Homo sapiens: one gene and its partners. The protein of the gene in region 4 interacts with the protein of the main gene of each other region in a pairwise test. Each region holds a gene or a part of one and is shown on either strand. Other genes may lie near its edges. The genes, in order: FASTKD1, GABPB1, SPATA12 and EIF2S3.

Evidence for each region.
Region 1: the proteins of EIF2S3 (region 4) and FASTKD1 interact in binary tests that used the Homo sapiens proteins (3 or more experiments, as listed by UniProt).
Region 2: the proteins of EIF2S3 (region 4) and GABPB1 interact in binary tests that used the Homo sapiens proteins (3 or more experiments, as listed by UniProt).
Region 3: the proteins of EIF2S3 (region 4) and SPATA12 interact in binary tests that used the Homo sapiens proteins (3 or more experiments, as listed by UniProt).

Annotation. Positions count from the first base shown.
Region 1 is NC_000002.12:169,556,846-169,563,872, forward strand, and holds part of FASTKD1 (FAST kinase domain-containing protein 1, mitochondrial), read right to left. Parts: intron 6,506-7,027; coding exon 6,380-6,505; intron 3,941-6,379; coding exon 3,542-3,940; intron 3,536-3,541; exon of another isoform or gene 2,079-3,535; coding exon of another isoform or gene 2,068-2,078; intron 453-2,067; coding exon 342-452; intron 1-341. UniProt on the Homo sapiens protein: Involved in the down-regulation of mitochondrial MT-ND3 mRNA levels which leads to decreased respiratory complex I abundance and activity.
Region 2 is NC_000015.10:50,345,192-50,352,218, forward strand, and holds part of GABPB1 (GA-binding protein subunit beta-1 isoform beta 2), read right to left. Parts: exon of another isoform or gene 3,745-7,027; intron 1,205-3,744; exon of another isoform or gene 1,181-1,204; intron 1-1,180.
Region 3 is NC_000003.12:57,056,305-57,063,665, reverse strand, and holds the start of SPATA12 (spermatogenesis-associated protein 12), read right to left. Parts: upstream 3,003-7,361; 5' UTR 2,880-3,002; intron 1-2,879.
Region 4 is NC_000023.11:24,057,956-24,064,982, forward strand, and holds part of EIF2S3 (eukaryotic translation initiation factor 2 subunit 3), read left to right. Parts: intron 1-2,132; coding exon 2,133-2,227; intron 2,228-4,460; coding exon 4,461-4,619; intron 4,620-6,245; coding exon 6,246-6,380; intron 6,381-7,027. UniProt on the Homo sapiens protein: Member of the eIF2 complex that functions in the early steps of protein synthesis by forming a ternary complex with GTP and initiator tRNA.

The DNA of each region.
Region 1 (7,027 bases), on a different chromosome or scaffold from region 4:
AACAAACAAAATTAGCTGGGGCATGGTGGTGGGCGCCTGTAGTCCCAGCTACTCAGGAGGCTGAGGCAAGAGAATTGCTTGAACCAGGGAAGCAGAGGTTGCAGTAAGCAGAGATAGTGCCACTGCACTCCAGCCTGGGCAACAGAGTGAGACTCTGTCTCAAAAAAACAAAAAAAAAAAGAAAAGAAAAACAAAGTAGAACATAAACAGTGGCTTAAGCATTAATTCCTTATTTCTTCAAAACAACTGGTAGATTAAAGAAGAAAACCATTTTTCCTTAGAAAAAAATAGGTGCTTGTGAATGACAACAAACTTAACGTCGTAAATTTCAGAAAAGATACCTTTTAATCAGACATGAGTTTCTGCTTTCCATATCTCCCATTGCTCCCAACACTGCCAGGGCTTGCTCGCCAGTTAGGTCCTCTGACATCAATAACATAGTTGATTTAAGTCTAGAAGCAAAAAAAAAAAAGTTTTTGGTTGAAAGACTGAAAATTAGCTTGCAATTTTTTTTAAATAACAGTTCTTGGGTAACAAATAGGAAAAAAAATATAAACAAAAACTGAATCCAATATATAATTCTAGTGTTCTCCCCACATTACTCGAATATAAAATATTACTGAATAAAGAAAAATATATTGTCTTCTTCAATGAAATTCAGGCCTCATTATAATCCAATCTTAAACTGTTTGAAAAATACAGGTAAAAGATATTTTAAGATTTTCAAATAATACAAGGTTATAATGGTTATAAAATACTATGATTCAGTGAAATTATTCAATACTAGAGAGCTAAGAAATGAACAGTTGATATTCTGACAATTTCCCAAATGTTTTAAAACTGAATAGGAACATCTAGGAGTCAATAAACCTGCATATTATCAGAAATCTCATATACTAAGCACTTGATATAACAGTATAAACTGAAAATTAACAAAGCTGGTCCATTTTGACTATGATTAGTTGTCATTTGAACTATCCAAAGTAGTGCAGTAATGTTAAGTACCATGATACGTGTATTTTTTAGAATCATTTAGAAAGCAAGCTCGAAACGTGACATCTGATAGGATAAACTAATTGTCTATTCACATGGATAACTCCATGCCATCCTTTCCACCAACCTTTTCAAAGGTTTCAAACCCAGTTTCTCCACAAACTTTTCCCAACCACTTCAGTCTATATTTTTCTCTCACTTCTGTCTGCTCACAGCACTATCCATATCACTAATTTTATTGTTTCTTCATAAACTATGTTGTTACAGTATTTACATATTTCAATTATATCTATCCTCTCAATTGCAATATAAATTCCTTGAAGACAGACTCAGTTAAACCCAACTGTTTTATTGCTTTAGCACTGAGATTTTAACAGTACTTGGTGACAAAAAACGGTTCCAATAAAGTTTGTTCGTGTGTGTGTTTCTTCGTCTGTTTTGAGATGGAGTCTCACTCTGTTGCCCAGGCTGGAGTGCAGGAGCATGATAGCTCACTGCAACCTCCGCCTCCCAGGTTCAAGCGATTCTCCTGCCTCAGCCTCCAGAGTAGCTGGGATTAGAGATGCCCACCATTGCACCTGCCATCACTCCCGGCTAATTATTTTTTGTATTTTTTTGTTTGTTTTTTGAGACAGAGTTTCGCTCCTGTTGCCCAGGCTGGAGTGCAATGGCGCAATCCTGGCTCACTGCAACCTCAGTCTCCCAGGTTCAAGCGATTCTCCTGCCTCAGCCTCCCAAGTAGCTGAGATTACAGGTGCCCACCACCACGCCCGGCTAATTTTTTATATTTTTACTAGAAACGGGGTTTCACCATGTTGGCCAGGCTGGTCTCGAACTCCTGACCTCAAGTGATCCAACCGCCTCAGCCTCCCAAGGTGCTGGGATAACAGGCATGAGCCACCACACCCGGCCCTTTTTTTTTGTATTTTTAGTAGAGTCGGGGTTTCACCATGTTGGCCAGGCTGGTCTCAAACTCCCGACTTCAAGTGATCTGCCAGCATTGGCCTCCCAAAGTGCTGAGATTACAGGTGTGAACCACCGTGCTGGGCCCCAATAGTTTTTTTTAATAATCACCTTGTTTCCATCTTGATATAGTCTTAAGATGTGCTCTTAAATTTTTTCATATAATTCAAAGTACTTTTTTTTTTTTTTTGAGTCAGAGTTTCGCTCTTGTTGCCCAGGCTGGAGTGTAATGGCGCGATCTTGGCTTACTGCAACCTGCACCTCCCGGGTTCAAGCGATTCTCCTGCCTCAGCCTCCCGAGTAGCTGGGACTACAGGCGCTGCCATCATGCCCGACTTATCTTGTATTTTTAGTAGAGACGGGGTTCCTCCATGTTGGTCTGGGTGGTCTTGAACTCCCGACCTCAGGTGATCCACCTGCCTTGGCCTCCCAAAGTGCTGGGATTACAGGCATGATCCACCGCACCCAGCCACAAAGTACTCTTAAAAAATAAAACTTTCTCCGTAAAGTTTTCCCTAACAGAGTAATGATACAGATTCCCCTATTGTGCAAGTCTTGGAACCCCTGCTTAAGTGAATCTACTAATCATACTTATGTGTTAGGACTATTATATAAAATTCTTATTTTTTTCTTTTATTTTTTCTTTTGAGACAAGGTTTCATTCTGTGCCCAGGCTGGAATTCAATGGCGCAATGTCAGTTCACTGCAGGCTCAACCTCCTTGGGCTCAGGTGATCCTCATGAGTAGCTGGGAATCTAGGTGGGCACCACCACATCTGGCTAATTTTGTATTTTTTTGTACAGACAAGGTTTCATCATCTTGCCTAGGCTGGTCTCAAATTCCTGGGATCCAGGGATCCACCTGCCTCGGCCTCCCAAAGTGATGGGATTAAAGGCGTGCAACGCCGTGCCCAGCTTGTAATTCTAAATATTTCATACAATTATGCTGGGTGGGGGAAGTTTATGTCTAGTATAAATCCAGTCACATGGCCTAGGAAGAGAAACTCTTATCTATTAACCGTATTTGTATGTTAATTTAATATTTGCTCATCATTATATTTCAAATATTACTACCTACATCAGTATCTAGCAAAACTGGAAATTCCTAAATGAGAGGCGCCACACAAAATTTGCTCAAACCTGACATGGGAACATATGCCCAGTGCATAATAAATGCTTTGATGATTATTGTGATGAAGACAGCAAAGCATAAAATGGCCCTCTGCTATGACTACTATAATTCTAAATATTCCACAGACTTACACTGGGTGGGGGAGTCTTATATGTGTAAATCCAGTCATGTAGCACAAAAGGGAGAATAAAAACACATGGCGTTTCCCCTCATTTTTTTTCATGTTGGCCCAGTATCAGAGGTTTACCTTTCAGAACACAGCAACAGACTAAGAGTTTGAGATGTAAATTAGAATAATCAGAAAAAGAATCAAGGAGCAGAGCATAAGAGATTATTTTCCCTTCCACAACCTAATAGGGTGATATTTGTACCTTCCAGAGCTGCAAGGAGACCTAAGCTTGAAGGCTCCACGTATTCACAACAAAAAAAGTAATGCATTTTAAACTGAACTTACTGTTTCTTTTCTTCAGGTCCTGCAATGGGTCCCAATGCTACAAACAATTTTACAAAGCTAGCAGGATGATTACACAGAGGAATCATTTCAGTTAGCTTCTTTTTAGCCATTATAATAAATTCAAAACTATTAAATTGTAGAAATTTGTATACACTAAGTATTTTACTGATGGAATCCAAATCAAGGTGGTCCACATTACTTAAAAATACGTTATTACATCTTTCTAATAGTGGTTGATAACGATATCTAACATTTCGAAGAAACTTTGCTATGCTTTTTGCAACGTTGACCTCAGAAGAATCTATGGTGTCAAAAAGAAGTTCTGTTTTGTTCACCAGTTGTTGTTGAAAATGTCGTGATATTAAAGAAGATATGTTGACCATCAAGACAGACAAGGAACTGAAAAAGAAAAAAGATGCAAAGATTTTTACATCAATTAAGAATGATCAATTCTTTTTTTTTTTTTTTTTTTTTTTTGTAGAAACAGAGTCTTGCTATGTTGCCAGGGCTGGTCTCAAACTCCTGGGCTTAAGCAATCCTCCCACCTCAGCCTCCCAAAGTGCTGGGATTACAGGCATGAGCCACTGCACCCAGCCACATAAGTGTATTTTTTTTAAAAAAAAGGCAAGGGGCTGGGCATGGTGGCTCATGCCTGTAATCCCAGAACTTTGGGAGGCCGAGGTGGGCAGATCACTTGTGGTCAGGAGTTTGAGACCAGCCTGGCAACATGGTGAAACCCCATCTCCACTAAAAATATAAAAATTAGCTGGATGTGGTGGCGAGCACCTGTAATCCCAGCTACTCAGGAGGCTGAGGCAGGAAAATCGCTTGAACCCAGGAGGCAGAGGTTGCATCATTGCACTCCAGTCAGGGAAACAGAGGGAGACTCCATCTCAAAAGAAAAAAAAAAAGGCAGGGAAGTAGGGTGGAGTGGGGCAAGAAGAGCAGGAAACTACTATAATTTAATTTTACCAAAGTGCTAATCACTTTGTAAATATGAGAGAAAAAGCTGTATCTGAAACGCCAAAGACAATCATAGTACTGGATTATGAAGGTTAGCATTGACAGTAAGTAATCTTATGTTAAAAACAAAACAAACCCTCAAACCACTGGTATGAAAACCAGAGAAACTCCTTAAATGTTAGTTTCAAATTAATAGTTCCTTGACATTCAGCAAATGTAACTATTAACTCTCCTTTATGAAACTGAAAAGAAAGTATTCCCAGATGGAAAGAATAAAAAAGACATAATTGTATGTAAAATTTGTGAATTTGTTTATAAATTAATTATAAATTAATCCATTATAAATTATTAATCTATTATAAATTAATTATTAATCTATTATAAATTAATTATTCATTATAAATTATTTATTAATTTATTGTAAATTATTTATTAATTTATTGTAAATTATTTATTAATTTATTGTAAATTATTTATTAATTTATTGTAAATTATTTATTAATTTATTGTAAAATAATTATTTATTAATTTATTGTAAATTATTTATTATAAATTATTTATTTATTGTAAATCAATTATTTGTTAATTTATTATAAATTAATTATTAATTTATTGTAAATTAATTATTCATTAATTTATTGTAAATTAATTATTCATTAATTTATTGTAAATTAATTATTTATTAATTTATTGTAAATTAATTATTTATTAATTTATTGTAAAATAATTATTTATTAATTTATTGTAAAATAATTATTTATTAATTTATTGTAAATTAATTATTTATTAATTTATTGTAAATTAATTATTTATTAATTTATTTTTTGGTTTTTTTGGATTTTGTTGTTGTTGTTTCAAGTTTTGTTACTGTTTTTTTTTCGTTTTTTGTTATTGTTGTTTTGAGACAGAGTCTTGCTCTGTTGCCCAGGCTGGAGTGCAGTGGCACAATCTCAGGTCACTGCAACCTCCACCTCCCAGGTTCAAGTAATTCCTGTGCCTCAGCCTCCCGAGTAGCTGGGATTACAGGCGCCCGCCACCATGCCCAGCTAATTTTGTATTTTTTGTAGAGATGGGATTTTTGCCATGTTGGCCAGGCTGGTCTCGAACTCCTGACATCAAGTGATCCACCCACTTCGGCCTCCCAAAGTGCTGGGATTACAGGTGTGATCCACCATGCCTGGCCAATGAATTCATACTTAATTTAAATACTTCTTGGGTTTACTTCATGATATAATAATAATACCTACTATCCATTACTGAGAAACTTCTATGTTCTAGATACTTATTCAGAGGCCATTTTCAGTGGGTTTCTGACTGCCTTTGTTCAGAACTATCTTTTCAAGGATGTTTGCATAGCAAACAGCCTAGGAGAATAGAGATAATGTCTCCTGTTGGAGCAGAGTAGGCATGCTTTATTATAAAAGATTCAGGTTTCCTAAGCTCAGAGCTCCTCTCCTGGATCACAACCCATTATGGGAACGAGAGCTCAGGGAATCAACACAAGAAAATTCTGGTACTCTGCTACTGCTATTGCTATAAAAAACAAAGTCCTCTCTCTGACCTCGGAGTCTCAGGCCTTCCTACGGCACACGTAGGAAAATGTGGCAGGCAAACTTAGCTTGCAAATAGGTAAAAACTCAGATCCTCCACAGACCTCAACAATATTGTATTACACTTTATGTACCTTATGTCTAATCCCCACAGCAATATTGCAAAGTAGCTATTACTATCCCTCTTTTGCAGATGAGGATAACGAACTTCCAAGAGCTTAAGTAACCTTAAGTCACATAAACTAAGAGTAGCAAATCTGACTGCATCCACATCCAAAGCCCAGGATCTTTCCACCACAACACAAGATTCCCTAAATAAATTTACCTTAAGTCCTGTGTGGTTTCCAAGTTCCTATGAACAATATCAGCTATTTTTCCCATTAATGGACTAAAATACAAATGCTGATCTGCTAGGCAAGAGGAAAATTCTGAGAGCAGTTTAATATCAAACCTATTAAAGGAAATATACAAAGGAGAACATTAGTATTTACTTTCACTTAAAACACATAATATATAGTTATAAAATTAAAAGCAATCAAAATAGTAAATTACATAAAATTTTTTTTCTAAAATGTTATTATTATAAAAGTAACATGGCAACAGTTAAAAAGTCAGATACTGTAGAAAGGTTTTGAAAGGGGGAAAATCACTAAAAATTATTTGAATGATTTACTTAATTTTTTTAGATGACAGAACAATTTTGACTCAAGGTTGCATATTAACAAATATAATGGCTGCTACTACAACAGTGCTATGAATTTTTTTAATAGGAGAAATAATCCAATTTCTTCAACAAGAAAATGGCAAGACAAAAGAGAGGAAAAAGGAACTGTTATAGATTTTATGACTTTGAATTCACTAAAAAACAAGCATAAGAAAATTCACAGCAACACATATGTAATAGCAAAACCCTGCAAAAAACCCGAATGTCCATCAAGAGTACAATGGATAAACTGCACATACTCATACAATA
Region 2 (7,027 bases), on a different chromosome or scaffold from region 4:
AGAGAACATTAAAAAGCCTCAGTGGAAATAGTAACACATATATACTAGCTGAAAAGAGTCAGGATGAAGCCAATATTATTGACAAAAAAGATGTCCTCTGAAGCGACAATCTGAATTATGCTATTCCAAAACTGCGTAAGTTAGGAAAGTAGTAGTAAAAGAACTCAGGAGTTGACTAGCCTGGCCAACACAGTGAGACCTTGTCTCTACCAGGAAAATACAAAAATTAGCCAGGCATGGTGACACATGCGTGTAGTCCCAGCTACTCGGGAAACTGAGGTAGGAGGATCACCTGAGCCTGGGGAGGTCAAGGCTGCAGTGAGCTGCAATTGTACTCCAGCCTGGGCAACACAGTGAGACCCTGTCTTCGAAAAAAAAGTAAAAACTCACGGCAGCAATTGTAATTCAATTCTTAAAATTTTTGAAATGAAGAGAAATGCAGCAGATAGCTAGAAAGAACAGTAGCAGCAGTTCATCAAAATTGATTTTTTTTCCTCCCAAAGTACAGATGTCTGTACATTTTTTTTTGTTTTTTTTTTAGATGGAGTCTCGCTCTGTCGCCTAGTCTGGAGTGCAGTGGTGCGATCTCGGCTCACTGCAAGCTCCGCCTCCCGGGTACACGCCATTCTCCTGCCTCAGCCTCCCGAGTAGCTGGAACTACAGGCGCTCGCCACCACGCCCAGCTAATTTTTTTTATTTTTAGTAGAGACGGGGTTTCACTGTGTTAGCCAGGATCGTCTCGATCTCCTGACCTCGTGATCCACCCGCCCTGGCCTCCCAAAGTGCTGGGTTTACAGGCATGAGCCACCACGCCCGGTGAGAAGTCTGTACATATTTTAAGGTAGGGAAGAAAAAACATTGCAAATAACAATCAAAGTGACCAGAGAGGTAAAGTTAACTGTGGCAGCAGGATTCTTCTTCCGTTCAATTTACAAAATAAGATGAAAGAACAGTGATTTGTCATGGTTACAATGAAAAAAAAATGTGCAAGCTTGTACCCTGTTTTCCTTTTTCACTTATATAGAAGTAAATGGCATCTATTAAGAGTTAAAGAGGAAGAAGGAATATGAGACAACAGAAAAATGCAATTAATAAGATGATTGCCAAGAAGTAGGAGGGGCCTATTTGGAATTGTTCAGCGTAAATTTATAGTGGCCAAGAAATCTTCATAATTACTCACCTTCCTCCACAAATATGCTGTGACCTGTGAGGGAAAACAGAAGAAATCGATGGTGGAAAAATCTGACAACAGGAGTCCAGTAAAATATAAAATAAGTGATTGATGTCAAAGTGCAGACTGTATCTAGTGCATACAGGAGTTAAGCTAAACGTCTCAGACTGTTTGGGTTGCTGTAACAAAATACCATAAACTGGGTAGCTTACAAACAACAGAAAGTTTTTTTTTTTTTTTTTTTGTAGAGATGGGAGTCTCACTATGGTGCCAAGGCTGGTAGTGAACCACCTCACCCAGCCCAGGAGGCTGAGAAGTCCAAAATAAGGCACTGGCAGATTCAGTATCTGGTAAGGGCCAGCTTCTAGACATCTGTCTTTTTGCTGTAACCTCATGTGGAAGAAAGAGCTAACAAGCTGTCTGGAGTCTTTTTTTTTTTTTTTGAGACAGAGTCTCACTCTGTCGCCCAGGCTGGAGTGCAGTGGCGCCATCTCGGCTCACTGCAACCTCCGCCCCCCCCAGGTTCAAGCGATTCTCCTGCCTCCACCTCCTGAGTAGCTGGGATTACAGGCACCTGCCACTGTGCCCGGCTAATTTTTGTATTTTTAGTAGAGATGGGGTTTCACCATCTTGGCCAAACTGGTCTTGTACTCCTGACCTCCTGATCCACCCACCTCAGCCTCCCAAAGTGCTGGGATTACAAGCATGACCCACTGCACCCGGTCTGGAGTCTCTTTTTTAAGAGCACTAATCCCACTCCTGAGGGCTCTACCCACCTGAGCTAATCACCTCCCAAAGGCCCCATCTCCTAATGCCATCATCTTGGAGGTTAAGATTTCAACATGAATTATGGGGAGACACAAGCTTTTAGACCATAGCACTTAGGGCAAGAAACTGAGGGTCACTATGAATGGAACAAGTAAAGGAACACAGGAAGAATAATCACATTGGCAAAGATCACAGAGTTCACACAAGTCATTTAGGGCACAAAGGAAATTTTTTAGATCATTCACTTACACACCATACAAATTTTTTTTATTTTTTATTATTAAAAATAATAATAAATATGGAACACATCATAAATTTATGTGTCATCCTTGTGCAGGGACCATGAAAATCTTCTCTGCATCGTTCCAATTTTAGTATATGTGCTGCTGAAGCAAGCACTATACTACTAATTATTTTTTCCTCTGTTTGGATACATGGGAAGTGCTGTGGAAATAAAGGATTCCAGGAGTCAGAAGGGGCTATACATCCAAAACCGTTATCATAATGAGAAGAATTGACCTAATTCCAAAGTTCAGTACTGTAATTTTACAACCACCTCAGTCTCTACATGCACAGAATGGGTGCATTAAAGACAGGTATCACAGTGTCATCTACCCACCTCCTTTAAAGAATCACTACTATAGGCTGGGCGCAGTGGCTTATACCTGTAATCTCAGCACTTTGGGAGGCCAAGGTGGGCAGATCACTTGAAGTCAGAAGTTGGAGACCAGCCTAGCCAACATGGCTAAACCCCGTCTCTACTAAAAATACAAAAATTAGCTGGGCATGGTGGCGGGCACCTGTAACTGCAGCTACTTGGGAGAATCACTTGAACCCGGGAGGCAGAGGTTACAGTGAGCCTAGATCACACCACTGCACTCCAGCCTGGGTGACAGAGTGAAACTCCATCTGGAAAAAAAAAAAAAGAATCACTACTATAGTAAACCACCATAGTAAAAGTATCTTATCCCTCAAGTGTAATGAGACATAAACAAGCTAATTGGGTTATAGGAATGCTCAAGCCTCTTTCAGAAAAAGATTCTACATTATGTAATATAATCACAGCATTAGTGGGTTTAAGATATTCTTTAAAATAGAATCACAGTCAGGACCAACAGGAGTAGTTTTTTAAATTTTTTTTGGAGACAGAATCTTGCTCTGTCACCCAGGCTGCAGTACAGTGGCACAATCTCCGCTCACTACAACCTCCGCCTCCCAGACTAAAGGAATACTCCCACCTCGGCCTCCCGAGTAGCCGAGACACAAGCACACACCACGTCTGGCTAATTTTTGTATTTTTAGTAGGGACGGCGTTTCACCATGTTGGCCAGGCTGGTCTCGAATTCTTGACCTCAAGTGATCCGCCCGCCTCGGCCTCCCAAAGTGCTGGGATTACAGGCATGAGACACTGAGCCCGGCCATTTTTTTTTTTTTAAACTTTGAAACTTTTTGGCTGGGCACAGTGGCTCACACCTGTAATTGCTGCACTTTGGGAGGCCGAGGCAGGCAGATCACAAGGTCAAGAGATCAAGACCATCCTGACCAACATGGTGAAACCACGTTTCTACTAAAAATGCAAAAATTAGCTGGGCGTCGTGGCGCGCACCTGTAGTCCCAGCTACTCGGGAGGCTGAGGCAGAAGAATCGCTTGAACCCAGGAGGCGCAGATTGCACTGAGCTAAGATCGTGCCACTGCATTCCAGCTTGGCGACAGAGTGAGACTCCATCTCAAAAAAAAAATTTTTTTTAAATCATAGTATCAGTATGCTGAGTATTTTTTAAATCAAAGGAGATGGAGGTGGACATTTTCCATTATTTCATTTTAATTGACTTTAATTTACCATGCACTATAAAACTATAAAATACCATGAAAAGATGTTTTAATATTATAAAATAGGACTCAAAATTAATATTTTATAGGTTCCTTATCTTCAATTCCAAAAATCCAAAAAACTTCTGAAACCCAAAATAACTCATCTTGTGGTAAACCTTACCCAAACTGATATGAAGCTATTTACAGTCTTTATCCTATTTAGTGCGAACATTCATACATTTTGTTGCAGAAACAGTAACACTTTTGAAGGGGGATATTGCACTGGACTCTATTGGAAGGCTACACATTACTACCTTGCCCATATAAAAAAAAAATTCCTAATTCCATAACCTATTAGACCCTAAGAGTTTGAATGGTGGACTGTGATCCTATAATTGCTAACATTTATTGAGCTATTAACTGTTATGTTTCAGGTACTGTTCTGTTCACTTTATATGAAATAACATTTAATCTTTCCAATCATCATGAGCTAAGTATTATAATAATCCACATTTTACAAAGAAGGAAACTGAGCCACGGAGAGATTAAGTAAACTGCCTAAAATCACACAGCTAGAGTATGACTAACTGGGATGACACTGGGATGAATATTTAAAATATTACACATAAGAGTAACAACACACAACAAAATAATTGATTATGGTAGGGTGGTAGGAGTGATATGTTTCTCTACTCAATTGATATTACTTCTAGAATAAGGAATCAAACAAAAAATTACAAAACACTACATGCATTTACAAATTCTCATGTACAATTTCTACAAACTTGCTTAAAATGCAGAGTATAAAACCCAAATTTCTCAGCTTATGCTAACACATTTAATTTTTTATTGAAAAGTTACATCTTAATATCTTAATTACAACATGATAGATAATTTATATTCATTGTAGAAGTTAGAAAATTTGGATAAGCAAAAAGAAAACAATCACCTGTAAAACTACACTCAGAAATAACCATTTAACAATTTGGCACATATCCTTCCAGACATAATATATTTTTGGGTTTTTTTACCAAAATGGAATCATGTTTTTAAATTTATTTTTTCTCACTTACATATACCAAGACATCCTTTCATGTCTTTATATTATTCTATCATCATTTTCATGGCTGAGAAGGCAGTACCCCACTGTAGGGATGGACCCTAACAATCACTGTGAAACATTTAGGTTGTTTACAATTTTACCATATAATGATCAATAGTACTGGCTCTAGAGTCACACTGGTTGGATTCAAGTCCTGGCCCTAACACTTAACTAACTCAGGTACCTTGAGCAAGCAACCTCATTTCTCTATGCCTGTTTTTTCTTCTGAAAAGCAGAAATAGTACTACCCACTTCATATGATTACCGTGGGGCTTAAAGGCATTAATACACAGCTTTTATAATCAACAATACTGCATCTAGTATGCTCACAATTAAATATTCACACACATCTTTACTACATCAAAAAAAAAATTCTTTAAAGGGAATTTCCATGTCAGAAGGTATGCCAATTTTTAAAGCTGCTGAATCTACCAAATTACAGTGTGGTTTAAAGCCCTTCATTAAATAGCCTTCTCACTTAATACTCATTTCTCTTTATCCAGGAAGGCAAAAACTATTATCAAGTTAACCAGTTTGTTTCACTCAATTAGCTTTTTGTTCTTCCACCTGTAAACCTCGGCATATTTAATAAAACCTCAAAGTTTATAGGTAACTTGAAGACACCTAGCTCAAATTCTCCTTCAGTACGATTCCTCTACTCTAGAATCCCCAATTTGTCAGTGAACAGGAACAGCCTACCACCCAAAACAACTCATTCTATTTTCACAATTTTGAGGAAATTTATCTTGAAAGAGAATTGAAATCTGCTTCTTTTAAACTTCCACCCACTGACCCTAGTTCCTTCTGGTCAAGTCAAATCTGATCCTTCTGCATGACAGAACTCCAAATCCTTAAAAGTGGCTGTTACTTCTTAAAAGAAGCTCCTCTTCTTTAGGTCAAACATCCCATTTTTTCAACTTTTTCTCATTTCCATTTCTCTCATGATCAAGGTCCTCGTTTATGCTCTACAGATAAGTGATTTTGACACTTAGGTGTCTACCACCTTGGAAATGAGAAAAATTAAGGTCCGTTCCTACCCTACTTAAGTTTGGGCCTCTGTGTGGCTTTTTATTAGCTCTCCAGATGATTCTGATAAAGTCTGAGAATGAATACAAGGTCTCACTTATGATAGTATGCTACCCAAAAAGCCAACACAATACCCCAAATATAATATAACTAGTACACAGTAAAGTGGGGCTAACACCTTGCTCTGTCAATAAGCTGTTCTACCAACTTCAGAATTATTCACAGATGGGTGTGTTGGCTGACGCCTATAATCCCAACACTTGGGAGGCCAAGGTGGGAGGATCACTTGAGTCCAGAAGTTTGAGACCAGCCTGGGCAACACAGTGAGATCTCGTCTCTACAAAAAATTAAAAAATTAGCCAGACATGTTGGCAGGTACCTGTAGTCCCAACTACTCAGGAGGCTGAGGCAGAGGCAGGATCGCTCGAGCCTGAAAGGTGGAGCTTGCAGTGAAGTATAATCGCACCACTGCACTAAGCCTGGGTAACAGAGAAAGCAAGACCCTGTCAAAGAAAGAAGAGGTGCAAAGGGGAAAACAGGGAGGGAAGGAGAGAGAGGGAGAGGGACAGAGGGAGAAGGAGAGAGGAAAGAGGGAGGGAGGGAGGGAGGGAGGGAGGGAGACAGAAAGGTGCACTAGCCCACCAACTGAACTGACAGCTGATTGCACCAAAGCATCTTCTTTGTATAGAGCACTGTGATGTCAACACTGAGAAAAAACACAGGCCCTAATACTGATCTCATCTAGTGCTAGATTTACCTTCTAGAAAGCATGATGGAACAAACATCTTCAGAAAACTATAATACTAATTGTAGCTATCCCAATGTAGGCACATCAGAGCTATAGAAACATTGTGATTACTAGCTGGAAACCATACTAGTTGTTGGGGAGGAGAGGGGAGCAGAGGGATGACACTAAGGAAACTAAGTTGCTCTCAACTTCAAGATTTTGTGTGGGTTTGTTTTTCAACGTTTGCAAAGTCAGAAGAGATGGAGGCCATCAGTGAGTTCATCTGAACTCAGGCTACTTGCAAACAGAGACTGGGTAACTGCCTCGTGCACCCTCAAAAATAAATTCATGATGCAAAACTTCATGTAATTTCTGAATTTCTGAATTCCTCATGACGTGCACTTTACCTGTTACCTGTTA
Region 3 (7,361 bases), on a different chromosome or scaffold from region 4:
CTCACCTGGCTTCTAGGATGCCCGACTCTCCTGATCCTCTTCCCACATCTCTGTTAAGGAGCACCCCAACCTCCTGGTTGCTCAGGCCCAAAGCCTGGGGCGTCATCTTTGACTTTTGTATCTCTCTTCTCTTCACTTGTCAAAAGACTCTACTTGTAGAGTGGCCACTGCTCCCCTCCCGCTCCTACCACCCTCCAGGTCATTCTCCCCTCTCACCTGAATGACTGCGGCCTCCAAGCCTCTGCCTTTACCTCCTTTCAGCTTGTTCTCAACTCAGAGTCAGAGGGAACCTTCTGAAGGGTTGGCTACTTCTCTGCTCAAAGCCCTCAAATAGCTCTCATTTCACTGCAACAAAGCCAAAGCCTTTAGGGTGGCTGGCTGCAAGGCCCCATGTGATCTGGCTGCATTTCCTCTCTGACTCCTCTCTTAGTTTGCCCTTCCCCCTCATAACCGCACTCTAGCCACATCACCTCCATGCTGTTCCCTGCGTGGGCACCTCAGGGCCTTTGCACCTGCTATTCCCGCTGCCCAAAATGCACCTCTCCCAATATCTGCAGAGCTTGGTCCCTCATTTCCTTCAGCCTTCCCTGGTCATCGTGTCTAAACCGTTACCACTGCATCCCAACTTCCCCTTTGCCTTCATTGCTTTTTCTCCTTACACTATCGTTATCCAATATAAGGTGTATTTTGCTTATTTATCTTGTCATCTGCCTCCCCCACTAGAATGTAAATTCCATGAGGGCAGGGATTTTTCTTCTATTGTGTTCCCTGTCATGTCCCCAGTGCCTTGCCTGGTACAGACAATAATTTGTTGAACCCGTAAAGAAAAGTTTGGTAAACAGATTAAAAGCCATTTGATTCTTCTATTATGATATAATTCTTGCCTATATTTTTCTTACCTGTGAATTATTACATATGTGTATGTATGTGTGTGTGCATGTTTGTTGTGTGTGTGTGTGTGTGCATGTGTGTAGACAGAGAAACAGCGAGTCCTGTCATTCCCACCAGATATTCCTGCTTGTTAAACAGCTACATAGTGTTTTGCTGAGTGGCTAGAGCAGCTTTATTTAACCTTGTTTTGTTCAGTACTACTGGGCAGCTTCCAATCTTTTGCTATTGTAGATTATGCAGCATCTGTGCTGGGCACTTGCCCTGCTTCCTTCCCTCTTCTCTGAAAGGCTTCCCCATGCTCCTGAGCACCCCCCGCCCCCGCCGCCGTGCTCCTGAGCCTAGCCTGAGCCCGAGTGGGGGCTGTGGTCCTGGCTGGGCCTATCATGGTTCCCCTCCCCTCGGCTGTGGTAGCCGGTCTGGAGCTAGACACAAGCCACCCTTGCCAGGCTGTGGGCTTCCTCAGGGTCATCCTAACCCACTCAGAAGTGGCAGAGAAGGTGCTTGAAGGCACTCACCCAGCGCTAGAGCAGTGAGGACAGGCCCAGAGTGTGGAGCTGCGAGGGGAGGGTTGGGCACATTGCCTTTGGATCTAGTCACATGACTGAGCTGCTCCAGGGATCTTCCTACAAATCCCCCTTCTCACCCATCTAGATGGAGTTGGATTTCTCACTGCTAGCAGTGAGTCTAGACAGATCCAATCCAGTGGAGCATCCCTGCCCCACTCTCTTTTTTTACTTGATCCTTAGTCCAGAGCAAGGAAAGATGTGGAAACCCTCCCAAAGGCATTATTCAGGGCAGAAAATGCTTGTAGGCAGAGCAGCACCTTGTTTTTGTCACAACCGGAGAAACAATTTAAATCTGAACCTATGCGGGCTCAGATACTGATGCTGCCATCTGAGAAGGAGGACCTCTCTCACCTCAGGTTCTTTGTCTGTAAAATGGGGATGAAAATAATTATACCACACCTCAGGACTAAATGAGTTAATAAAAATTCTTAGAGTGGTGAGTAACACAGGATGAGAGACTGCTCACTGAGAGTTAGCTGTGGTGGCTGCCAGAATCCTAAAAGTGTAACAGGAGTTAAACATAGAGGTATCATATAGTCCAGCAATTCCAAATCTGGGTATATACCCAAAGAAATGAAAGCAGAGATCCAAACAGATACTTGCATTCCCATGTTCCCAGCAGCGTTATTCACAATAGCCAAAAGGTAAAAATAATACAAATGTCTATTGACAGATGAATGGATAAACAAAATGTGGTATGTACATACAATGGAATATTATTTAGCCTTAAAAAGGAAGGAATTTCTGGTTGAGTGAGATGGCTCACACCTGTAATGCTGGCACTTTGGGAGGCCAAGATAGGAGGATCTCTTGAGCCCAGGAGTTTGAGGCTGCAGTGAGTTATGATCGTGCCACTGTACTCCTGCCTGGATGACAGGGCCAGACCCCATTGCAAAAAAAAAAATAATAATAAATAAAGGAATTTTTGACACATGCTACAACATGCTGATCCATGAAAGTATTATGCTACATGAGAAAAGTCAGTCACAAAAGGACACTTACAGGGGGTACCTGGAATAGCAAGTTTAGAGAGAGAAGTATTAATACAGTAGGGGCTGGGAGAGGGGCAGGTGCAGGAGGAGTTACCGCTGAATGGGTACACAGTTTCTGTTTAGAATGACAACAAAGTTCTGGAAATGGATAATGGTAAGAGTTGTACAATATGGTGAATGTGCTAGATGTCACTGAACTGTACACTTAAAAATGGTTAAAGTGGTATGTTTTATATTATATTTTACCACAATAAAAAAGAGTATAAGAGGAGTTGGACTCTCCTGGACTTTTTCTTTATAGATTGAACTTATGTCAAAATGTAGCACAGTGAAAAAACAGGCACAGGCCAAAAAAGAAGTGGTGGTGGTGTGTGCCCATGTGTGTGTGTGTGTTTCGGGGTGGGGGTGGGGCGGCAGGTAAACTACTCACAAGACACCAGAGGCTCCTTTTGAGGTCTGATACTGCAGGCTGGGATCTGACGCTGCAGGATCAGGAAGAGTGGGGGAGATGAGGGGAAGGTGAGCCTGCACAAAGAATTTTCTCAGTGACTGTGGGCAGGGCAGTCAGGACCCTGGGTCACATGGGCCCAGCCCGGGACCAGAGCCTTTGTGAGTCACAGCTCAACTCCCAGCAAACAAAGGGATATGCCAGGGAGGGGCTGAGTTGTGACTCAGAGGCTGCTGCTGCTGTGAGCTTCCTCCAGGAACCCCATCCCTTCCAGTCCCTGATTCTGACTCCTACTGTGGGGGTGGGGACAGGTGTACCCACTTCCTGGGCAGGTTCTTGGAAGGGCTCTCCTGCAGAACCTAGACTTTTTTGCAGCTCCTTTTTGATAACCCGAGTAGCAGCAGCTATACCATTTAAGTGCTTGCTGCATACGGGCCCTGGGCTAAGTTCCTTTTTTTTTTTTTTTTGAGACAGAATCTCAGCTCTGTCGCCCAGGCTGGAGTGCCGTGGCACAATCACGGCTCCCTGCAGCCTTGACCTCCCAGGCTCAAGAGATCCTCCCACAGGGACTGTAGGTACATGTCACACACCCAGCTAATTTTAAAATTTTTTATAGAGATGGGGTCTCGCTATGTTGTCCAGTCAGCTCTTGAACTCCTAGGCTCAAGTGATCCTCCCGCCTTGGCCTCCCAAAGTGCTGGGATTACAGGTGTGAGCCACCATGCCTTGTCCCTCACTTCATCTATTTATTTTTATTTTTATTTTTATTTTTGAGATAGAGTTTCACTCTTGTTGCCCAGGCTGGAGTGCAATGGCGTGATCTCCGCTGACTGCAACCTCTGCTTCCCAGGTTCAAGCGATTCTCCTGCCTCAGCCTCCCGAGTAGCTGGGATTACAGGCATGTGCCACCATGCCTGGCTACTTTTGTATTTTTAGTAGAGATGGGGTTTCTCCATGTTTGTCAGGCTGGTCTTGAACTCTGGACCTTAGGTGATCTGCCCAACTTGGCCTCCCAAAGTGCTGTGATTACAGGCGTGAGCCACCATACCCAGCCCCTCTTCGTCTTTTTAAAGCCTCATTGTCACCCCATCAGGCAGTCATTTCAGTCCTACTTTGCAGAAGAGGAAATGTGCTTATGGAGGGAAGCAACTTGCCTGAGGCTATGTGGGTGGCAGATAGCAGAGCCAGATTTGAACCTATCACTGATTAAGGAGCCTGGACTTGTAATCATGCTGCTCACCACCCTCCCTCCCCCCACCCCCAACTCATACACACACGGGGAAGAACAGACTCCAAAATGTGACTTATCTTTAGGCCAAGCTTGTCTAACATGTGGCCCAATACAAATTCATAAACTTTTAAAAAACATTATGAGTTTTTTTTTTAGTTCATCAGCTATTGTTAGTGTTAGTGTATTTTATGTGTGGCCCAAGACAATTCTTCTTCCAGTGTGTCCCAGAGAAGCCAAAAAATTGGACACCCTTGCTCTAGGCTTAAAGACAAGGCTTAAAATTTTTTCCCTGTGCTTATGAAAAAATTTAGAAAATACAAGTAATGAATATATTTTATAGTAAAAAAAGGCATAGTTAAGTATGATTGCATGTCAGCATTTCTTTTTTTTATTATTATTATACTTTAAGTTTTAGGGTACATGTGCACAACGTGCAGGTTTGTTACATATCTATACATGTGCCATGTTGGCGTGCTGCACCCATTAACTCATCATTTACATTAGGTATATCTCCTAATGCTATCCCTCCCCCCTCCCCCCACCCCACAACAGTCCCTGGTGTGTGATGTTCCCCTTCTTACGTCCATGTGTTCTCATTGTTCAATTCCCACCTATGAGTGAGAACATGCGGTGTTTGGTTTCTTGTCCTTGCGATAGTTTGCTGAGAATGATAGTTTCCAGCTTCATCCATGTCCCTACAAAGGACATGAACTCATCATTTTTTATGGCTGCATAGTATTCCATGGTGTATATGTGCCACATTTTCTTAATCCAGTCTATCATTGTTGGACATTGGGTTGGTTCCAAGTCTTTGCTATTGTGAATAGTGCCGCAATAAACATACGTGTGCATGTGTCTTTATAGCAGCATGATTTATAATCCTTTGGGTATATACCCAGTAGTGGGATGGCTGGGTCAAATGGTATTTCTAGTTCTAGATCCCTGAGGAATCGCTACACCGACTTCCACAATGGTTGAACTAGTTTACAGTCCCACCAACAGTGTAAAAGTTTTCCTATTTCTCCACATCCTCTCCAGCACCTGTTGTTTCCTGGCATGTGAGCATTTCAAGTTGTTATTTTTATGCACACTTTTGGGACCTTGAAGGGCAGGTGACATGAAACAAACCCATTGGGTACAAGTATCACTCATTTTGCTGGACGCCGAGAGCATCACAGTCTATGACAGTTTTGTCCAATGTATGTAAAACTGTAATGGCATTTCAAAAAGACCAGACTGATTTGGAACAAGTTCTCATAAATGTGAAAATAGAGAAAATAGGTGTAATGTAGATTGGCCCTTGAGGGAGCAAGTGGTAATACTAATTTCCAGGCATTCCTTATTTTTCTGTGTAAAAGGCCACATGGCTTATTTTATGGAAAGAAACTTGTTCTTTCAGGACTTTTAATTGAAAGAGATTGTGGGAAATAGGTAACCCTCCCTTCCTTTACAGTCGGCTTTTGGTGAATGTGGCCATGGCAAGGACACGACTGAAGGGTTAAAGCCCAGTCAATATGAGGAAAAGGAAATTCACTTTGGACAATAGTTTTAGTTTCATCTGAAATTTTATCAGAGTTGCTAACTTGGTGGCAAAACTGACTGACTCATTTAAGTGGCCCCTCCTCAACTCTCCCTTGTCTGTCTAGTATGGACAGTAAAATCAGTGAGAGCAAGAATTAAGCCCCCCAGTTTGTCTGTTATAGTAGGAGGCAGTCATTCATTCACTTACTCTATATCACTCAAGTATGTATCAAGTGATACGATGGCTGGAGTTCGCTTCACTGGGTTGAGTGTAGAAGAAATAATATTAGGAATGAGTTGACCACTCAAATTGTATGATGTGTGGCACAGAGGGTACATTATATTCTTTCTCCGTTTGTATTTAAACTTTTACATTTTAAAAAAGCTTGTGTGGGGGTGTGGGTGTGGGTGTGACTTACCCTGGGCCAGGCCCTGTGCTAGGTGCTGAGGAAGTCTTGGTGGCTAAGACCGGCTCAGACTCTACCCTACCAGAGTCAACAGACAAGACTCACTCAGGAAACAGATACTAATCAAATAGTCACATGAATGCAAGTAAAATTATAGTTGGGATAAGTGCTGAGAAATCATGAACAGAAATGCAGAAACCTGGACGGGCGCGGTGGCTCACAGCTAATCCCAGCATTTTGGGAGGCCAAGGCAGTCGGATCACTTGAGGTCAGGAGTTCGAGACCAGCCTGGCCAACATGGCAAAACCGCTCTCTACTAAAAATACAAAAATTAGCCAAGTGTGGTGGCACGCACCTGTAATCCCAGCTACTTGGGAGGCTGAGGCAGGAGAATCACTTGAACTCAGGAGGCAGAGGTTGCAGTGAGCCGATATCATGCTGCTGCACCCCAGCCTGAGCAACAAAGTGAAACTCCATCTCAAAAAATAATAATAATGAAAATTAAAAAATGCAGAAACCTGCAGTGTAGACCCCATTTTACCCAGGATCATAACGGGACTACAGCTGGAGGTACTACCAAGGGGGCAGGTGGAGTGACAGCCTGCTTGTGTTTAGACCTAAAGGAAAAGATGGAAGGGGGCAGGGGGCAGGGGTGTGTGGGGTGTGTGTGTGTGTATAGACCTGCATGGTCAAGGCCAAGAGGAGCCTTTGTGTTTTGTCGCCTGCTTGAACCATGGTGGGATAGAAGGATTTCAGGGTGGACCAGTTGACTGAATGCCCTTCAATCCCATAGTCTTTTGTGGTGCATCAACCTCATAGAGGACCTTGTGGTATATGTTCAAGATAACAGAGACCGGGAGTTTGAGACCATGCCCAACATGAGGCAACATAGCTACATCCTGTCTCTACAAAAAACTAAAAAGAAAGAAAAAGAAACGATAACCGATTCTGCTTAGAAAAAAATCCACATCTCTTCTTGCCTTAACTAACATGCCCTTTCCACTCCTCGTCATGCCTCCTGGTCTCATGGATGTTCCAGCTATGTCCCAATCCCTTTGCTTGCTCAGCCTCTGAGTCTGCTGGTCCTCCTGTCCAGAACACTTTTGCCCCTTCTCTTAGGGCCAGCTCCCTCCCATATCTAGTTTGGCTCAAACATTGCAGGGAGGCTCCCCATGATCACTTTTCCCTGCATACTTGCTCTGCTTCTTTTTTTTTTTTTTTTTTTGATGGAGTCTTGCTCTGTCGCCCAGGCTGGAGTGCAGTGGCACAATCTTGGCTCACTGCAACCTCCGCCTCCCAGGTTCA
Region 4 (7,027 bases):
CTAAAAGTATCACTTAAACAAAACAGAAAAACAACTCATTGGATTGAAGGGATTCTTTTTCTAGGCTTCCTGAATTTCTTTTAAACAGCGCTGTTTCTGTATGTTAAATAGGAGAGAAACAGAGCCATTTCTAATTACTTCTCTAAAACACTTGAACTTGTTCCCCATCTGTTTTCTGAATATGATTGCATACCTGTTTTTTTATCAGGATACTGACACCTGTCTAGTGATGTTTATGGGGATTGGAGATGCCCTACAAGGAATGTTTAGATTGGGGCAGGGCTGGGACCAGGGAGGGACAAGTGAGGCCTTCACCTCAAGCCCAAAATGTAAGTGGGCCTGGCGGTGGCAGGTATGCCAGAAAACTCAGTAATTAGGATAAATATTTTAATGCAGTGTTTTTTTTAAATTAATGCAAAAAATGTGATAAATCAGAATTTTAAATAAGGGCAGACTCTATTACTAAATTTTTTTCCCCTTTTGCTTTGGCTCAGCATGGCATTGTATTTTGTTTATGATTGATTTTTTGCATTAATTTCGACTTTTTAAAAATACTGAATGCATATATTTTTTTTTCTTTCTTTTTTTTTTTTTTTTTTTTGAGACAGTCTCTGTTGCCCAGGTTGGAGTGCAGTGGTGCGATCTTGGCTCACTGCAGCTTCCACTTCTGGGTTCAAGCAATTCTCCTGCCTCAGCCTCCCGAGTAGCTGGGATTACAGGCGTGAGCCCCCATGCCCAGCTAGTTTTTATTTTTATTTATTTATTTATTTATTTTTGAGACGGAGTCTTTCTGTGTCGCCAGACTGGAGTGCAGTGGTAGAGACGGGGTTTTACCATGTTGGCCAGGATGGTCTCGATCTCTTGACCTTGTGATCCGTCCGCCTCGGCCTCCCAAAGTGCTGGGATTACAGGCGTGAGCCACTGTGCCCGGCCTAGTTTTTATATTTTTAGTAGAGGTGGGCTTTTGCCATGTTGTATAGGCTGGTCTCGAACTCCTGGCCTCAAGTGATCTGCCCGCCTCAGCCTCCCAAAGTGCTGGGATTACAGGCATGAGCCTCCATGCCCGGCCATTTTCCTTGATTACTGAGTTTTTTGGCAGTCTCTTAAATTTTGCACTTGTCTCACTGTAGTCCTGGCCTTTAATAGGGGATCAGCAAACTTTTTCCACAAAGGGCTAGGTAGTAAATATTTTCAGCTTTGCAAGCCATAGAGTTTCTGTTGATTCTGTTCTTCTATTACAGAAGCAAACGTAGACAATACGTGTGTAAATAGGTATGGTGGTGGGCCAGATTTGGCCTAAGGGCTGACCTCTGTTTTAGATCATGACAATGTGAGCATGCGATTAAAAAAACAATTGTGACTCTGAATGAATACCATAGTTTTGTTAAAAGTGCTGCCATCTCTGCTTCAAATGGGCAATTCTAGTTTTTCAAGGTGTTAGAGGTATTTTTGGAAAATTGTTTTTTTTTTTCTCTTTTTTTTTTGAGACGGAGTTTCACTCTTGTTGCCCAGGCTGGAATGCCATGGTGCTATCTTGGCGCATTGCAACCTCCACCTCCTGGGTTCAAGCGATTCTCCTGCCTCAGCCTCCCAAGTAGCTGGGATTACAGGCATGCACCAGCTACATGTGGCTAATTTTGTATTTTTATTAGAGACCGGGTTTCACCACGTTGGTCAGGCTGGTCTCAAACTCCTGACCTCAGGTGATCCACCTGCCTTGGCCTCCCAAAGTGCTGGGATTACAGGTGTGAGCCATTGCGCCCAGCCAGAAAATTGTTTTTTCAAATTCTCATTCTGTTAACGTGGTTTTTATAAGTCATTATAAGTTTTAGCTTTCAAATCAATGACATTCTCAGTATATACTCTCCACCATTATTCTATACCATATTCATTTTCATTGGATTTTGGAGTTTATCTTCCATTCTGCACATAACTAATTTAATTTGCTTTGTAATCTGCAGTGGTTTTCATCAGCTGGTGAACTTATTTCCAAGTTCTAGAAACGACAAGCCCTGTAACCATTTTATAGCAATAAGATTATTTCCTAAGTTGATTTAACTTTAAAAAATCTAAAACTAGCATGTGTAAGTAGTGATTTATGTTAAGGCTGATTGTTATTTCTCAATCATTAGACATGTTTCCTTTGTTGACTGTCCTGGCCACGATATTTTGATGGCTACTATGCTGAACGGTGCAGCAGTGATGGATGCAGCTCTTCTGTTGATAGGTAAATACCTCACAATTGGTTTGGACAAATCAATGTGGAACAAATCCAAGATGAAATATTTAAAGGGGAACTAAGGCCTTTAAGGATCATATCTATTACCTAAGGGTGACATGAATGGGAACTAACATGTCATCCAGGATGACTTTCCTACCTATCAGCTATCACAAAATACTCAAAAAGATAGACTTGGGGCTGATAGCTTGCGAGAATTCTTGTGGTAGCATTTGAGAAAAAGAAAAAAAGTCAATAGTTCATTTTTCTCATTTAAATCACATGAGGTGATTTATTTAGTTTTAAATGTATGTGTAAAACTATTTGTGTTATGGTTTGTGTGTGTGTATGTCTGAACTGTCTACTGTGGAAGTATTTAAGATACAAATATTCATAATACGTGCTGAAGTGTAGGAATAAGTGGAGTTTTGAAGGGTAGCGTATGCTTTGTTTCTTATGTTAGCTGTTGAGAGATTTCATTACTAGGGGGTAAAATTTTTTAAAAGCTGCTGGTGCGGTGGCTCACGCCTGTAATCCTAGCACTTTGGGAGGCTGAGGTCGGCGGATCACCTGAGGTCAGGAGTTTGAGACCAGCCTGACCAACATGGAGAAACCCCCTCTCTACTAAAAATACAAAATTAGCCGGGTGTGGTGGCGCATGCTTGTAATCCCATCTACTCAGGAGAATCTCTTGAACCCGGGAGGCAGAGGTTGCAGTGAGCCAAGATTGCGCCATTGCACTCCAGTCTGGGTAACAAGAGTAAAACTACATCTCAAAAAAAAAAAAAAAAAAAAAAAGCGACTGGGCATGGTGGCTCATGGCTGTAATCCCAGCACTTTGGGAGGCCGAGGCAGGCGGATCACTTGAGGTCAGGAGTTCAAGACCAGCCTGGCCAACAGGGCGAAACCCTGTCTCTGCTAAAACTACAAAAAATTAGCCAGGCTTGGTGGTGCGTGCCTGTAATCCCAGCTACTTGGGAGGCTGAGGCACGAGAATCGCTTGAACCCAGGAGACAGAGGTTGCAGTGAGCAGAGATCGAGCCATTGCACTCCAGCCTGGGCGACAGAAGGAGACTCAGTCTTAAAAAAAAAAAAAAAAAAAGCTGGGTGCGGTGGCTCACACCTGTAATCCCTGCACTTTGGGAGGCCAAGGCAGGTGGATCACTTGAGGTGTCAGGAGTTTGAGACCAGTCTGGCCAACATGGTGAAACCCTGCCTCTATTAAAAATACGAAAATTAGCCGGGTGTGGTGGGGCACACCTGTAATCACAGCTACTCAGGAGGCTGAGGCAGGAGAATCGCTTGAACTTGGGAGGCGGAGGTTGCAGTGAGCCGAGGTGACGCCACTGCACTCCAGCCTGGGTGACAGAGACAGAGTGAGACTCAGTCTCAAAAAAAAAATTTTTTTTTTAAAGCATGCCATGTTGGTATAGTCAGGACACTTGAATATCACGACTTGAGGAGGTTGATCATTAGAGTGCTCAACAAAACATGCCTATTTCTTTATAATACACTGTTGGTTATCTTCACAATAGCATTCTTCCCTCCCTCAGTTGAAGAGTAGCCTCTGATATTAGTAAAAATTCATAGACAGTATTAAGTGCTTTTCCCTTTTAATTACTCTCTACTTCTCAGGAGCTTGCCTGGGCCAGAACATTTCTAAAACTGGAGAGAGTTAGAGGGCTATACCTCATACCTGAGCAAAAGCTGAGTGCAGACCCTGAGAAAAGCCAAACTTGCTGATTTTAAGCTTCTTGCTTAGGACCAGGATTGGGAGCCACACAATTGGGAGGTTCCAGTGAATGCAGGCAACAGAGGATGAAGCAGGGCCAAAAGGTGGATACCTGGCAATAATATCTTCCTTATTAGGGTTAGAACATTCAGAAGTCTCCTTTATTAGATGCCAACTTTTTTTGGGGCGGGGAGTGGGTGGCAAAAGAGACTCATAAAATGTACCATTTTATGTATTTACAGGGTAGAATTTAGTGGCATTAAGCACATTGACAATTTTCTACAACATAGTGGTTGTCATTTCACCACTATCTAGTTCCAGAACTTTTGTATCAGAACTTTTGTATCACCGCAAAAGGAAACCCCATGCCCATGAAGCGTCAGTCCACATGTTTTCCTCCCCCAGCCCCTTGCAACCCATAATTTGCTTTGTCTCTTTATGGATTTGCCCGCCTATTCTGGATATTTCCAGCTATTCTTATATGCATCTTTTTTATTCTTCATCAACTAGCTGGTAATGAATCTTGCCCTCAGCCTCAGACATCGGAACACCTGGCTGCTATAGAGATCATGAAACTGAAGCATATTTTGATTCTACAAAATAAAATTGATTTGGTAAAAGAAAGTCAGGCTAAAGAACAATACGAGCAGATCCTTGCATTTGTCCAAGGTAAGAAGCCATAATATGAAATAAATCTATGAATCACTTTGAGAGGCATTTACTCTGGATACCAGATGTTAAATTAACTTTTAATATATTATCTAAAACAAGGTAAACTTACAAGTCTTAAGCCTTATCGCCCTACCTTTTGCTTGTTAGTAACCTGATATAACTAATGAAACCTGTGATTCTGAATTTAATATACTAAAGTATATTTTTGCTGGCAGCAAGTTAGAACTGAGGTTGTTTTCTGGAAACTTTATCAATCAGATTAAAAAAAATCTCAGTGACAGTAAAATGAATAAAATAATTTTAAAAAACCTTGTCTTACAGTATTTGTTACTGAACAGCTTTCAGATTTGGAAGTGACAGTGATTATTTAATCTCTAGAGTGTCGGCCGGGCATGGTGGCTCACACCTGTAATCCCAGCACTTTGGGAGGCTGAGGCAGGTGGATCATCTGAGGTCGGAAGTTCGAGACCAGCCTGACCAACACGGAGAAACCCCATCTCTACTAAAAATACAAAATTAGCAGGGTGTGGTGGCACATGCCTGTAATCCCAGCTACTTGGGAGGCTGAGGCAGGAGAATCGCTTGAACTTGGGGGGCGGAGGTTGCGGTGAGCCGAGATCACGCCATTGCACTCCAGCCTGGGCAACAAGAGCGAAACTCCATCTCAAATAAATAAATAATAAATCTCTAGAGTGTCCCTTCTCTAATAGCATAATGTTTTTCATTTCAGAGGAGATGTGATTTATTGTTGACATTTTCTCTCTCAGTCTTGTTTTTCTTTTTAGAAAGGTTAATTTCTTATGAACTCAGTTCTGTCATCACGAGAAGTAATAAGTGAATTTGATTAAAGTCTAATTGTGTTTGGTCTATTTCTTTGACTAGCTTGTTTGACGTATAATCAATACGTAGCAAATATATATGGTTGGGCGTGGTAGCTCACACTTGTAATACCAAGACTTTAGGAGGCTGAGGCGGGTGGGTCACTTGAGTCCAGGGGTTCAAGACCAACCTGGGCCACGTGGTAAAACTCTGTCAATACAAAAAATTAGCTGGGCTTGGTGGCACACACCTGTGTTCCCAGCTATTATGTAGGAGGCTGAAGTGGGAGGATCGCTTGGGCCTGGGAAGTGGAGGTTGCAACAAGCCGTGATTATGCCACTGCAGTCTAGCCTGGGTGACAAAGCGAGACCCTATCTCCAAAAAAAAAAAGTATATATGCCAGCAGTCTTTGATTAGCAGAGTCTGTAATTTTATCTTGACATTTATTGGGAGATTAATTACATGTTGTTAGAAATTTTTTCAACTAGTAGAGTGCTCTTTCACAGGAATGTTAGTATTTTCTTTATTTAAATAAGTTTATCATTGTACTAATATTAAGTATGTCTACTAATATAATGTAACAAATTTTCTCTTACAGGGATTTGTATTCATTTTCAGGAGTAAAAACAAACAATATTGCCATCTTTCTAAACAGAATTATCCACTTTCCACTTGTTGCTGACATTTATATGGGGTTTAGGCATCTATTTTATTATAGTAATCTTAATTGTTTTATGTAACAGATACATAGAATAAATTTTATAAAACTGTATAATTTTGATCTTTCTAAATTTTGTCATATAGGTACAGTAGCAGAGGGAGCTCCCATTATTCCAATTTCAGCTCAGCTGAAATACAATATTGAAGTTGTTTGTGAGTACATAGTAAAGAAAATTCCAGTACCCCCAAGAGACTTTACTTCAGAGCCCCGGCTTATTGGTAAGTGATAGGATTTGCCTTTAACTCTTAATCTGATCTTTTCCACATTGGTGATTCCTCTTCAAGGATGTTTATTAATATTTCCTCTTTCTGCAGAGGTGATAATTCATACAATTTTTTTGAAATCAATTCTGAGATTGTATTGGCAGTGCTAGATTGTATTACTGAATGAGGGACAGAGTCCTGAACACAGTAAGAACTGTTAACCTAAGCCGGGCGCAGTGGCTCACGCCTATAATCCCAATACTTTGGGGGGCCGAGGTGGGTGGATCACCTGAGTTCAGGAGTTTGAGACCAGCCTGATCAGCATGGTGAAACCCTGTCTCTACTAAACATATAAAAAATTAACTGGGCATGGTGGCGGGTGCCTGTAATCCCAGCTACTCGGGAGGCTGAGGCAGGAGAATGGCGCGAACCCGGGAAGCGGAGGTTGCAATGAGCTGAGATCGCGCCATTGTACTCCAGCCTGGGCAACAAGAGTGAAACTGCGTCTCAAAAAAACCCAAAAACAACTGCTAACCTTTCTGTGCTTAATATATGGTACATGATCAAGATGGAGTAATACAGTATTCTCCATGGAATCATAATGTTTTAGGGTGTTAGAACTTCCTGACTAAAACATTTACAGATGATTTTGTTGTTCAATT